4 linked regions of the Homo sapiens genome follow. The protein of the gene in region 1 interacts with the protein of each later gene in a pairwise test. Each region holds a gene or a part of one and is shown on either strand. Other genes may lie near its edges.

What was found. The genes of interacting proteins can lie anywhere in the genome.
Region 2: the proteins of NGFR (region 1) and STMN2 interact in a two-hybrid assay, tested with the Homo sapiens proteins (one large-scale study listed by BioGRID and IntAct).
Region 3: the proteins of NGFR (region 1) and ANXA7 interact in a two-hybrid assay, tested with the Homo sapiens proteins (one large-scale study listed by BioGRID and IntAct).
Region 4: the proteins of NGFR (region 1) and RCC1 interact in a two-hybrid assay, tested with the Homo sapiens proteins (one large-scale study listed by BioGRID and IntAct).

The regions. Positions count from the first base shown.
Region 1 is NC_000017.11:49,505,293-49,508,792, reverse strand, and holds part of NGFR (tumor necrosis factor receptor superfamily member 16 precursor), read right to left. Parts: intron 3,137-3,500; exon of another isoform or gene 2,495-3,136; coding exon 2,135-2,494; intron 1-2,134. UniProt on the Homo sapiens protein: Low affinity receptor which can bind to NGF, BDNF, NTF3, and NTF4. Forms a heterodimeric receptor with SORCS2 that binds the precursor forms of NGF, BDNF and NTF3 with high affinity, and has much lower affinity for mature NGF and BDNF.
Region 2 is NC_000008.11:79,663,117-79,666,658, reverse strand, and holds the end of STMN2 (stathmin-2), read right to left. Parts: intron 3,080-3,542; coding exon of another isoform or gene 2,998-3,079; intron 1,845-2,997; coding exon 1,785-1,844; 3' UTR 501-1,784; downstream 1-500. UniProt on the Homo sapiens protein: Regulator of microtubule stability. When phosphorylated by MAPK8, stabilizes microtubules and consequently controls neurite length in cortical neurons.
Region 3 is NC_000010.11:73,386,559-73,390,058, reverse strand, and holds part of ANXA7 (annexin A7), read left to right. Parts: intron 1-1,644; coding exon 1,645-1,747; intron 1,748-2,275; coding exon 2,276-2,370; intron 2,371-3,500. UniProt on the Homo sapiens protein: Calcium/phospholipid-binding protein which promotes membrane fusion and is involved in exocytosis.
Region 4 is NC_000001.11:28,533,543-28,537,042, forward strand, and holds part of RCC1 (regulator of chromosome condensation), read left to right. Parts: intron 1-1,507; coding exon 1,508-1,604; intron 1,605-1,715; coding exon 1,716-1,838; intron 1,839-2,328; coding exon 2,329-2,484; intron 2,485-2,719; coding exon 2,720-2,839; intron 2,840-3,204; coding exon 3,205-3,357; intron 3,358-3,500. UniProt on the Homo sapiens protein: Guanine-nucleotide releasing factor that promotes the exchange of Ran-bound GDP by GTP, and thereby plays an important role in RAN-mediated functions in nuclear import and mitosis.

The DNA of each region.
Region 1 (3,500 bases):
GAGCTGCCCTCATCTCTCCAATCCCCTCTGACGGGGGCGGGGGGATGAGATCCAGATGTGGCCACGTCCACTAGCATTCCAACCTACTAAGCCCTTGGCAGGTCCTGACAGCCATTTCCGGGCTGCATGGAGGGACCAGGTTATCCCTATTCAAACCGAATTTCACTGGGGCAGCGGGTAGCCCTTCTGCCCTGAGGGTGGGTGAGTCACCATGTTGACACCTGAAACGTAAGTAAATGCGGGGAAAGTATGGTACGCTGGAGGGGAGGGGGCAACAAAACCAAGAATCAAATTCCATTTCCTGAAATGGTCTCTTGTCCCAGAGCTGACATTTAACCCTTCAGAGCCTGAAGCTGAAAGGGGAACAGGGTCTGGTATGAACACTCCCTCAGGAGCACCCTCCTCCTTCGGGGTGGCTGGGAAAGTGGGCTGGTATCTGAGAGGAATCTGTGAATGCCCCAAAAGACAAAGCCTGCTCCTCCCACAGTCACCACCTTTCTTTGCTCTAGCAGCGCCCCCAAGTCCCCCCGCCCCGCCCCCAGCTGGCTGGTCTGGACTTGCCTACAGAAATGAGCTGCCTGCTTGCCTGATGCCTGGCTGCTGAAACCCTTCCTGCGCTCTGCCTGGCGCCTGATGCCACTTGCCTGTCTCCTGGCCCAGGGCAATTGCCAACAGAACCACCACATCCTACTCCTCATTCCTTCTCCAAGGCAGGAAGCTTTGAGCTCAACCTGGCCTTAGCCCAGCGTAACAGCCCTCCCCATCCTGAGCTCCTAAAGCCAGAGATGGCAGGACTTGGAAGGCAGGTGTGGGTTGGAGCCCCTATCAGACTGGAGGGTCCCCAGGGGCAGGAGATCTGGGTGCTAACTGAGGCAGAAGCTCTGCTGCCTCCATCAGAATGGGGGATCTCTAAAGTGAGAGCTATCTCTCCTTCAGCTGGGGACTAAGTGCTGGGACCACGTCTCTCTCATTAGACTGGGCGAAGGCTATCTCTCCCATCAAACTGGGGGCTCACTGAAGGAGGTACTATATTGCCTGCTCAGGGTAAAGGCAACCTGAGGATGCAGGTTAGTTCTCAAAGGGAAATAGCTCAATGTGTGCATGGCCACAGGATGATGGACAGGATGTAAAGGCACTGCCAGCCTCTCCCCGAAGTGGAAAAGCCCACCAGTCTCCCCTGAGACGGACGTCACCAACCAGAGACCAAAACAGCTCTGCCCTGGCTCCCACGGGGCTTCCTTCTCCCATCCCAAGAACCACCCCATCTCCTTGGGGCCTGTGCTTGGCTAAGGTGGGCACGCCCAGCTCCCATCCATCCCTGGAGCTGACAGCCACGAGCATGCACTGCCTTGTCCCCGGGCTTTTGAGCCCCAGGTCTGCCCCTCCCCTCCTTCTTCTTCCACAGAGCCCCTCCTTAGTGTTCCCTGCATGCCCCTCATCCTTCACTAAACTGCGGAACACGGTTGACCCCTCCCCTAGACAGGGCAAGCTGAAGTGGGCCAGCCCCACTGTATTCCCTAACCCGCAACAACCCTGGCAGCCATATGACCAGTGAGGAAACCGAGGCCCAGAGACAGGAGTGGACTCCCTAACGTCAGTCAAGGACAGGGTGGGTTCCATCTCAGGTCCCAGAGCCAAAACCCACCATGGACCTAGACCAGGGCTCAGAGTCAAAGGGTCCCAGCTCCTGAGGGTCCTCAAGCTGCTCTTCCAGTTCAGAAAGCCTGCCTCATGGATCAGACCTCTCCCGTTCTGTGCCCTGGGGGTAGTGGCCACCTTCGAGCTGCTTGCTGTTCAGCTAATCACTAGCGGGAAGCCACAGAGAAATGCGTCCCGGAGGATGAGTTACAATGTAGTACCCGCGGCCTGGGACGCTGAGAACGCCCACTTTCCAAACAGCCCAAAGAAGGTAACACAGAGAGGGGTTCTTTGCTGAGACAGGATGGGGAATGACCTCCTCCCTTAGGTTACCAGGAAAGGACTGAAGCTCAGGGAAGGTGCACGCTGCCTCAAGGTCACCAAGCTGCCCCAGCAGGCCAGGCAGGGTCCTTGTCGACCTCCAGAGAGCGCCCTTCCTTATGCCCCCAGCCCACCCCCGCACCCCCACTCCCCCCGCCCCCCGAACCGCACTCACCCTCGCACTCGGCGTCGGCCCAGCGTGTGCACTCGCGGAGCTGGCGCTCGGTGTCCTCGCACACGGTGCAGGGCAGGCACGGGTCCACGTGGTTGGCCTCGTCGGAATACGTGCCGTCGGGGCACTCCTCGCACACGGTGTTCTGCTTGTCCTGGCAGGAGAACACGAGGCCCGAGCCCGCCTCGCACACGCGGCACGCCTCGCAGCGCCCAGTCGTCTCATCCTGGTAGTAGCCGTAGGCGCAGCGGCACACGGCGTCGTCGGCCTCCACGCACGGCGCCGACATGCTCTGGAGCCCCACGCACTCGGTGCACGGCTTGCACGGCTCGGTCGCGCTCACCACGTCGGAGAACGTCACGCCTGAGCGCAGCGGACACCAGATTTAGTCGTCTGCTCTTTTGGGCACCCGGGACGCAGGAGCTGGAGTCTCTCCCTCCCCTATTGCCTGCCAGGACGCTGACTTCCTCCTTCAGCCTTCTCATCGGCTCCCACCCTCTTCCAAGGGACCCTGACCCCTAGCCTGTGAAAGTTGGTGGCAGCCAACTGGGAAAGGGGGAGGAGGCCCGGAGCCGCATCCTCCAGGCTCCAGAAGCACTGGCCGGCCGGGAGGCTTTCCGGCATAACCCAGCTGGTGCCGCTAAGTTTCTTGGCAAATTCTCTTTGAGAGTTCCCAGGCCTGTACTATGTTCCCAGCATGATTAAGGAATAATCTGAACGTGGTTCCCACCCAGCCCTCCCCGCGGGCCAGAGCTGGGCTGCTAACCCGGTCCAGGCAAGGTAGGCCTTCCCCTAGGGAGCCTCCTGCCTCATCTGCCTTCAGTTCCTCTCCACACAGGTGTGGGCTCAGATGCAGCCTAAATGGGAGTGACCGGGGTTAGACAGCAGAATTTCCCACCCATGGCACTACCCCCATGCTGCTGAAGGGCTTGGATCCTGAGGGTGGGGACGGACCTGCAGGCAAGAGGGCTCAGGTAAGGCAGGAGCCACTGAAGCTAGAGAGCTGGCTCTTAGCCCACACTCACTCTCTCAGATGGATATTGTTGAGCAGTACACAAGCTGCACAACTATATGATCACCCTTTTGAGATCTGCACATGCGTCGTCTGCCCTTTCGGCCAGGATGCAAGGGAGATGTCCAAGCTCATTCTTCACTCATGTTTTCTTAATTACTGGATGTGCACTCCAGAATAAGGAGAAGGAGGCTGGGCACGCCAGGGTCCTTGCCTCCTTGTACAGGGAGGGGAAGGAACAGGGCCAGATCTTCTTCACCCCTTCCAGCTTTGGGTGGGGAACTCTGTGCCACCCTGGATCTGGCAGGACCTATCCTTGCTCCAAGGACAGGAAGAGCATAGATTTAGGAACCTGAG
Region 2 (3,542 bases), on another chromosome or scaffold:
TGGTTCCTTTGGTCCTGTAAGATCCATTTGGGTCACTGACAGGACCCTGCTGCGCCCATGTGTGCAGTGTGTTTATTGGCAGTACAAAATTCAGCAGTACGTCAGGGATCACATCTTAACAGACGGCCTAGGCTGGGGGAGGCGTTCTGTGGGCCACAGGGGAGAACTTGAGATAATGCCAGGAACCTTCAATGTTTTGAAAAGGGCTCACTTCCTCAGAATTATCAGTCTGCATTTTGTGGTATCTTGTTCAGTCCTGTATGTTTTTAAAGGGAGCAGATTGAAGACCTCTCCCACAGTGTTGGCCCATCAGAGGGCAAGAGAAAAGAGATGCGGCCTGCTGTTCCCAAAGGGAAATGACTCAGCAGGGCACTGGTTTCCTTCAAACTCTCCTTATTATCTCTTTGCTTGTGAGATTGTCTAATTCAGTGGCTGCCCTTTTAAAATCTGAACTCCAGGGTCAGACACATGAAGAGGCAAGAGAACAGACCAAACCTTTATTAGTTCACAGAACTCCAATTCTTTATTAATCACAGCTTGCTCACAATGACATACAGGAAAATAGCACTAATGAAGAGTAAATATGCAGGCAGCAACCTTCAGGAGTTGGGAGTTGGGGAGAAACGACTTCAAAACTGCGATAGGTACTTATGGTGGGTATCTGGTGATTCTTAGTTGGCACAAATGCCCTGCCTAGCCCCCTTAACTGCGTCAGCTTCACAGATGGAGTGTTTTGTTGTTGGTGTTGTTAGTAGGCAGGATTGCCTTACACTGGGGAAGAAAGACCAGCTTGAGTGAAAGTCCGCAGTGTTTTTGATTTTGTTTGTATGTGTGTTTTAATGCAACAACCAGCTCACAGTTTCCAAGTGGAAAAATATTCAGTAGCATCATGTACTTGTACTATAGGTAAGAGCTTAAAATGAACATCATCAATCATGGCATCCACAAATAAGCCACCTGACACATTAATTAATTCATTCCATCAAAAGAACTTAAACTAGAGAATTAAGCCCACTTTATGAAGAGCGATTTCACGGCTGCTTGAACCATTCGAATTTGGATTTGTGTTCAGCACTTTAAAAGGTTCAACTTTTTGCTTCTACCCAGATTGGTCTCAGGTCTGTCTTCTCATCCATCCCTTTCTAAAGCCAAAGCACATTTGTAGCACATAATCCAGGAGAAGCAGAAGTAAATGCTATGACTGGTGGTATTTCTTAGCCTGGTTTTGTAGTTTTTAGGCAGTAAGTAGATTATGAGCGAACAAATGTGAAGGTTCATGTGGAGTCATAATACCTGTGATCTAGGTATGGTCTTAGTCAAGCTCAGAGACAACAAAGCCTTCTAGGTCATTAGGCAATGGTGGGTTTCTAGCACCATAGACTGTCTACTGACCTCATTTTTCTTTTGGAATGGAGTTAGACATGGGGAGCTTCAAAAAGAACAGACCTAGCAAATTCATTTGAGTGGAAAGACACAACATCAAAAGCCTGTTACAGGACATGTAAGATTATGAAATAACTTGCATAATGCAATACTTGTATTTTTTAACAAAAATGTAAGTATTTACAAAATAAGATCCAAGGTATTTTTTAAACATCAAGCAAAACATTCTGCAAAGAGACCGCATTGATTTTTTTTAATTTTTGATTTTTTTTGTTTTTTTTTTTTTATAATGAGTTCTTTTTAAACCATGTCATACATTCCCCATCCTGATATCGCATGATCCATTATAATATAGGCAGGGGGATTTACTATTGGTGGGGCGTGCCAGACCCTCCCTTGCTTCAGCCAGACAGTTCAACCTGGAGTTCCTTGTTCCTGCGCACCTCCGCAGCATGCCTCTCCTAAAAAACACAAAAGGAAGAAGAAATGTCACAGGCCCTTTTTGTCTGGTCCTTTGCGTACCATGCGCTTGACTAGAAGTAACCCAGTTTGGTGTCTACTTTTATGAATTTTTCCCATTTCAGAAGGAAAATATGGGCCCTGCAAAATGTCATGTTAGAAAAGATCTTACAAGACTTACTGTGTTTTAAAAAATATATTTAACACTGTTTTTGTTTAAAACTATGACCAAAAGTTCATGTTATTAAGATAGTTTTGAATATTAGGATCAGAGTATAAATCCAGAGAAAGGTAATAAAACATCACATTATTGTTTCTCTATCATTTCTAATGATGTCGTTCCTTTTGACTAATATTTTAAGGACTTTATAATCCTGATGGACACTCTGGGAGGGCTAGATCCAGGACGAAGACTTTCTATACTGCTTCTTAAACTCTTGACCTGTTTGTCAAGGCCCTTCATAATTGCAGTCCAAGTGACGTTTCCAGTCATAACCCCCATCTTTTCCTACACACACTTGATGTTTCAGTTTAATGGAATTGTCTTGTCATGCAATTTTCAATGCTAGTCTTTCATCTCCACTGGTCAGGATTATAAACTTACTCTTTAAGCCCTATGACCATTGTCCTTTTCTCCATAAAGATTTTTATGAGACTGCAAAGACTAACCTGCAAACTTATCTCACTTTCCATTTGAACACCTGCATAAATCTTTCCTTTTATTCGGCAGTCATTTTATTCTAGTTGTATTATGAGCCTCTCTGTTCTTGTCTCCTCTATTATATTTGACTGTAAGCTCATTGAGGGCCTGGACTATGTTTTATCATTTTTTTTTCCATTTGCAGGGCCTAGCAGAGTGCTTTGCAGATAGCATGTAATTGGTGGATGTTTATTTACATAAGGAACCAAGGTACTAGCCTGGGATTGGGAACTGAACTTCCTGAGGAGGGAACTGATGGAGGAAGTATTTTTTAGTATGTGGCTATACATCAGATGACTAAAATCAGTATTTTTTAGTATGTGGCTATACATCAGATGACTAAAATCAAACTGTCTTGCATATATCATAGGCGCTAAATAAATGTTCATTGAATTGAAATTTTAAGATGCTAATTATTAGTAGTATTATTTATATTTCTGTAGAATGTTGCTTACATTGCTTCTCTCCTTCCCTCTGAAGCTCCAGAAATTGAGACTCTATAGATTCTTTTAGTTCAGAAGAAATAAACTTGACCAGCTATAAAGTAAAACTTATCGTTAAACTCTATTAATCTCAAGGAGTCTACACTTATAGGGTTCTTTATATCATAATACTGAATATTTATTAGGCACTTAATGTGTACCAGACCTGCATCAGTACACGTTTTACCTGTATTAATTCCCTTAATCCTCACAATAATCTTATAGTGGACATTCTATTATTGTCCCCATTTTGCAGATGAAGAAACTGAAACACAGGAAGGGTAAGTAACTTGCCCATCTTCATGATACTAACAAGTGGGATTTAAACCCAGGGAACCTGGCTCTACAGCTCACTCTCTTAATCACTGCTATACAATTTCAATGTTGAGTGAGGAGAACATTTTATAGTTGCATGGAAAAATGTGTCTTTTCAAGTGTAGATTCTGGGAGAAAAAAGGCATAGACCACCCTATACTTCCTTCAAAGATACAGAGTTGGAGTAAGCAGGAAGTTGACTC
Region 3 (3,500 bases), on another chromosome or scaffold:
TTTATTTTAGGTCAACATTCAAACATACAAGAAATGTGTTGTTACAATTAAAATTTTTTTAAAAAGTAGTGGAGCATCATCTTCATCCCATCCCTCTTAAGCCCTGACTTGAACACCCTAAGAAACTTCTTGAATTATTCTGGGCTGGCCGCACACCTGTAATTCCAGCACTTTGGGAGGCCAAGGCAGGGGGATCACTTGAGGCCAAGAATTCGATACCAGCCTGGGCAACATAGCAAGACCCCCGTCTCTACAAAAGTAAGAAATTAGCTGGGCATGGTGGCACATGGCTGTAGTGCTAGCTACTCAGGAGGCTGAGGCAGGAGGATTGCTTGGGCTCAGGAATTCAAGGTTACTGTGAGCTATGTTTGTGCCACTGCACTCCAGCCTGAACAACAGAGTGAGAGCCTATCTCTAAAAAATAAAAAATTGGGGGAAACTATTGAATTATTTCATAGCTTTGTATTTTAAATTGTTTTATCTTTTAATTTTGACATAATTTTAGACTTGCAAAATAGTACAAATAATTTGTATATACCCTTTACTCAGATTCTCCAAATGTTAACTTCCTACATAAACACAATGCAATGATCAAAATCAGGAAATAACATCGATATAGTACTGTTACCCAACCTACAGACCTTATTTCAGTTTCACCAGTTGTCTCAATGATGTCCTTTTTCTGGTTCAGGATCAAATCCAGAATGCAATGTTGTATTTATTGTCATGTCTCTTAAGTCTCCTTTAATCTGAAATAGTTCCTCAGTCTTTGTTGTTCATGCCCTTGATGCTTTTGAAGAACACTGTCAGTTATTTTATAAAATATTTCTTAATTTGGGTTTGTCTGATATTTTCTCATGGTTAAATCCAGGTCATGCCTTTTTGGCAAGAGTACCACAGAAATGATTTTGTGCCCCCAGTGCATCATATCAGGAGACACTTATTATTGACTTATTCCATTACTGGTGATAATTAATTTTGATCATTTAAGTTGGTGCCTGCAAGGTTTCTCTGCTATAATGTTATAGGTTATACAAATATCCTGTTTCTTTATACTTTTGCCACCTAATTTTAGCACCCACTGTTGATTCTTGCCTGAAACAGTTACTACCATAGTATTTGCTAAATGGCAATTTTTAATTTTCATATAGATTTATTTCATGTATAATAATCAGGGTCCATATAGGAAATTAAGAGAGATTACTAAAATTATATTGCTGGTTTGAAATCTCACTGGGCATTCATGTGCTACTTCACTAAAGCCATTTTATATTCTTCTGTTTTTAAATCAAACATTGTCGCTCATCTCACACCATTCAGGGATCAGTCTTCTTTTTTCTTCCTATTCTACCAAAAAGGAAACTATAGTAAGATTGTGACTTTAATTTCACAAGTTTGGCCATCTTGTCTCCTGGAAGTTTGGTGTCTGGCTATCTGTTGGCAGGAGAAAAATCTGTCCTGAAGGGGGATAGGTCTTTCCTGTCTGTTCCATAATGAGCTCTGGTAATAAAATGCTCATATCCTTGCCTTAAAACCCAAACATTGGCCTTCTTACTTAAGATTGATGTCTGGGGAAGTCTTTAAGTTTCCTCATTAGAAACTTACTGGAAATGCTGACACGGATTTTATGCCTTTTATTTTCAGCCTGCCACAGTGACTCAGGTCACTCAAGGAACTATCCGACCAGCTGCCAACTTCGATGCTATAAGAGATGCAGAAATTCTTCGTAAGGCAATGAAGGGTTTTGGTAAGGAAAACAAATTTTTGTCTTTTTTAATAAGTTAAAGTAATCAGTTCTAAAGTAAAAATAAACCTTATCTCATAAACCCAAGTTTATGTGTCAGCCTGGGTGCGCATACCTGGATTTAATCTGATGTCTAGTGCCTTGTAAGCATTCTAAGAGATGACCTCAGGCTGGGTGTGGTGGCTTACACCTGTAGTCCCAGCACTTTAGGAGGCCGAGGTGGGCAGATCACCTGAGTTCAAGACCAGCCTGGCCAACATGGCGAAACTCCATCTGTACTAAAAATAAAAAGTAAAATAGTTGGGCATGGTGATGCATGCCTGTAATCCCAGCTTCACGGGAAGCTGAGGCAGGAGAATTGCTTGAACCTGGGAGGTGGAGATTGCAGTCAGCCTAGATCACACCATTGCACTTGCACCCCCAGTCTGGGTGACAAACTCCGTCTCAAAAAAAAAAAAAAAAAAAAAAGATGACCTCAAGCAGCACCTAGCATGTACTTTGTCCTTACTTAAACATGTGTGGTTCTTCCAGGGACAGATGAGCAGGCAATTGTGGATGTGGTGGCCAACCGTTCCAATGATCAGAGGCAAAAAATTAAAGCAGCATTTAAGACCTCCTATGGCAAGGTATGTTTTTCTTTCCTGGAATGAGCACCAGCAGTGGCTGGTAGACTCTGCATTCATGTCAGATTGGATACTATATTTTGATTAGTACCTGTGGTGCAAAAGAGGGACAACTAGACTTTAGAGACCTCAAGGGTACTGTATTCCCTATTTCTGTTTTTTGTTTTGTTTTGTTTTGAGATGAAGTCTCGCACCAACATCCAGGCTGGAGTGCAATGGTGCGATCTCAGCTCACTGCCGTCTTTGCTTCCCGAGTTCAAGCAATTCTCCTGCCTCAGCCTCCTGAGTAGCTGGGACTACAGGTGCACAGCATCATGCCTGGCTAATTTTTGTATTTTTAGTAGAGACAGAGTTTCACCATGTTGGCCAGGCTGGTCTCTAACTCCTGACCTCAAGTGATCCGCCTGCCTCAGCCTCCCAAAGTGCTGGGATTACAGGCGTGAGCCACCATGCCTGGCCTATTTCTCTTAAAAGGCTTTTTCATTCTAGAGTAGTCCTTGATCTCATAATCATACCTTACCCCAGTCACATATGTGATAGACATTCAGTAGAAAGTAGATCACAACTACAATCATGATCAAGAGGATGGTTCTCAGTCTTCTGCCTGTTACAGTGGGATTCAAGGCTTATTACATAGCCCTTGTTTATTCTTGGTCCTGGGCATCGCCTTCTGCTTCTCTCCCTTTCTCTAAACGTGTCCTATGTTAAAATTATATGGACTGAGCGTGGTGGCTTACGCCTGTAATCCCAGCACTTTGGGAGGCCAAAGCAGGAGAATTTCTTGAGGCCAGGAGTTCAGGACCAGCCTGGGCAACATAGGGAGACTTCATTTCCAACAACGATGACAACAAATTATATTAGCTGGGCGTGGTGGCGTGTGTCCATAGTCCCAGCTGCTTGGGAGGCTGAGGTAGAAAGATTGCTTGAGCCCAGGAAGTCAGGCTGTTAGTGAGCTGTGATTGTGTTACTGCACTGTAGCCTAGGTGACAGAACAAGACGCTGTCTCAAAAAAAAATAATATGGAAATGCTTGCCATTCTCTGTACACGCCATGATCTTTTATGCTTCTGTGTTGTGTACATGCCATTCTCCTGGCCTTGAATACCTTTTCTTTTTTTCATGGCAAACTTCTTT
Region 4 (3,500 bases), on another chromosome or scaffold:
CTGATCACCTGAGGGGTCGGGAGTTCGAGACCGGCCTGACCAACATGGAGAAACCCTGTCTCTATTAAAATTACAAAATTAGCTGGACATGGTGGTGCATGCCTGTAATCCCAGCTACTCGGGAGGCTGAGGCAGGAGAATTGTTTGAACCTGGGAGGCGGAGGTTGCAGTGAGCCGAGATCGCGCCATTGCACTCCAGCCTGGGCAACAAGAGCGAAACTCTGTCTCAAAAAAAAAAAAAAAAAAAAAAAAAGGAAGTAATCAGAATATCAGAATTATATTTTTTTCTTTTCTTTTCTTTTCTTTTTTTTTTTTTTTTTTTTTTTTTTTTTTTTTTTTTTTTTTTTTTTTTTGAGACAGAGTCTTGCTCTATCACCCAGGTTGGAGTGCAATGACACAATCTCGGCTCAGTGCAACCTCTGCCTCTCGGGCTCAAGCAATTCTCCTTCCTCAGCCTCCCGAGTAGCTGGGATTACAGGCATGCGCCACCACACCTGGTTAATTTTTGTATTTTTAGTAGAGACGGGGTTTCACCATGTTGGCCAGGCTGGTTGTGAATTTCTGATCTCAGGTGATCCGCCCGTCTGGGCCTCCCAGAGTGCTGGATTGCAGGCTTGAGCCGCCACGTCTGGCCTCTTTTCTTTTTTCTTTGTTTTGAGACGGAGTCTCGCTTTGTCGCCCAGGCTGGAGTGCAGTGGCGCGATCTCGGCTCACTGCAAGCTCTGCCTCCCTGATTCACGCCATTCTCCTGCCTCTGTCTCCCGAGTAGCTGGGACTACAGGCGCCCGCTACAACGCCCGGCTAATTTTTTGTATTTTTTGGTAGAGACGGCATTTCACCGTGTTAGCCGGAATGGTCTCGATCTCCTGACCTCGTGATCGCCCGCCTTGGCCTCCCAAAGTGCTGGGATTACAGGCATGAGCCACCGCGCCCGGCCTCTTTTCTTTTTTAATTAGAGACGAGATCCTGCTCTGTCACCCAGGCCAGAGTGCAATGGCATCGTCTTAGCTCATTACAGCCTCAACTTCCTGGGCTCAGGTGATTTCTTCCACCTCAGCCTCGCAAGTAGCTGGTACTAGAGGCTTGTGCCACCACGCCCAGCTAATTTTTGTATTTTTTGTAGGGACGGGGTTTCACCGTGTTGCCCAAGCTGGTCCTGAGCTCAAGCGATCTGCCCACCTGGGCCTACCAAAGTGCTAGGATTACTGGCATGAATTACCATGCCTGGCCCAGAATAGTATATTGAGTGCCCATTTACTTGCCACACAGTTTCAATGATTATCAGCTTGTGGCCAGACTTGTTTATCTCTATTTGCATCCGCTCTCTGACTCCTTGATTATTTTAATGCAAGTCGCAGACCATAAATGATTTCATTCATAAGTATTTGAGTATGTGGCCTGGCTCCTGCCCACTTCTCCATCCCCATCTGGTGCCACTGCCCTTCTGGATTTCACTGGCACGGGGCAGGCAGGACTGGCTGATAAGTGCCCTGTCCCTCCCTTCTAGGACAATAACGGTGTGATTGGACTGTTGGAGCCCATGAAGAAGAGCATGGTGCCTGTGCAGGTGCAGCTGGATGTGCCTGTGGTAAAGGTGGCCTCAGGTGGGTCTGGGGGCACTTGCTCAGGGCAGGAGTTGGAGGACCTTGTTCTGGGGCTGGCCTAGCCTTGGGCCTTACAGTTGTGGCCTGCATCCCTTACCTTTTCATCCTTAGGAAACGACCACTTGGTGATGCTGACAGCTGATGGTGACCTCTACACCTTGGGCTGCGGGGAACAGGGCCAGCTAGGCCGTGTGCCTGAGTTATTTGCCAACCGTGGTGGCCGGCAAGGCCTCGGTAAGTGGCCTTGGTACCTCCAGCAGGGCAAATTGGCAGGCCACCCCCACAGTGAAGGCCAAAGGCAGGAAGGATTTGCTGTGGTCAGGCTTGCATCAGATGGGCTTGTGGTGTTGGTTAGGACTTTGGAGACAGACTGCTCTGGTAGTTTTGCCACCTACTGTCTATGGGACTCTGAACATAGTTTCTTCATCACTAAGTCTACCTACCTGTAAACCTACTTCATTAGGTTGCTGTGAAGTTAAATGAGTTAATGAGAAGAATATCAGGCAGATGGTAAGTTCCACGTAAATGATACCCGTAATGACTGTGGGAATCTGAGCAAGGCACTTGTATTCTCTTGATCTCAGTTTCCTTTTCTATAAAATAGGGATAAGAGTCCCTACTTAGCCTCTCAAGGGCTTTTATAATGGAGGAGAATTAAACTCGGGGCAGAGAGAAGCCATGTGTGTCTGTCTGTCACTGACCGTGGCTTTCCCTTTGCCTGCAGAACGACTCCTGGTCCCCAAGTGTGTGATGCTGAAATCCAGGGGAAGCCGGGGCCACGTGAGATTCCAGGATGCCTTTTGTGGTGCCTATTTCACCTTTGCCATCTCCCATGAGGGCCACGTGTACGGCTTCGGCCTCTCCAACTACCATCAGCTTGGTGAGCCCCGAGCCCAGCTTCAGGCATGACCCAGTGGCCTGCGTTCCTGTCCTGGCTCTGCCACTCATTCATTGTGCATCCTTTGCGGGGTCGTCTAACCCCTCCAAGCCAGTTTTGTCATCTGTAAAGTGAGAATGTCCATATCCTGATGGGAGGTGGCCTCACTGTGGGAGGAGATTGAGAAGGGCAGCTCTCAGAACACCTTCACCCCTGATGGCTCCGGCCTTTCCCCCAGGAACTCCGGGCACAGAATCTTGCTTCATACCCCAGAACCTAACATCCTTCAAGAATTCCACCAAGTCCTGGGTGGGCTTCTCTGGTGGCCAGCACCATACAGTCTGCATGGATTCGGAAGGTAGGGCCTTTACGTCCTTCTCTAGTTTGGGGGTGGAGTGTTCCCTGGCCTAGGCCTAGCCAGATTCCTGAGACCATGGTCCTTGGAGCCTGGGTCTGTTCCATGGGTTGTACCATACATGGGTCCATGAGAGTCACTCTCATCCTCCTAGAGTCCTGGTGTTCTTCCAAGTGTGAGTTCAATGGGGGCCCATGTAGATTCTCCTAGGCCTCCTCCAAAACTGGGAAGAGACACTGCAGATCTCCTTCTGATCGCTCTGGGAGCAGGGACACACTCCCATGGACAGGTGGACTCACCTAGCCTGCCACCCATTTTGCCTGTAGCACGCCCTCTGCTATTGCTCATCTCTCTCCCTCCTCCCATAGGAAAAGCATACAGCCTGGGCCGGGCTGAGTATGGGCGGCTGGGCCTTGGAGAGGGTGCTGAGGAGAAGAGCATACCCACCCTCATCTCCAGGCTGCCTGCTGTCTCCTCGGTGGCTTGTGGGGCCTCTGTGGGGTATGCTGTGACCAAGGATGGTGAGTGGGGCTGCCTACACTCTGTCTAGTTGGGACCTGGGGGTCATGGTTCTTACCCAATTCCCCAATAGGCTGTGATGTCCACTCTCGGGGGAGCCGAGGTACAGAGAGCAGTGTTTGTGATGGCACTTTGTTCCTGCTTC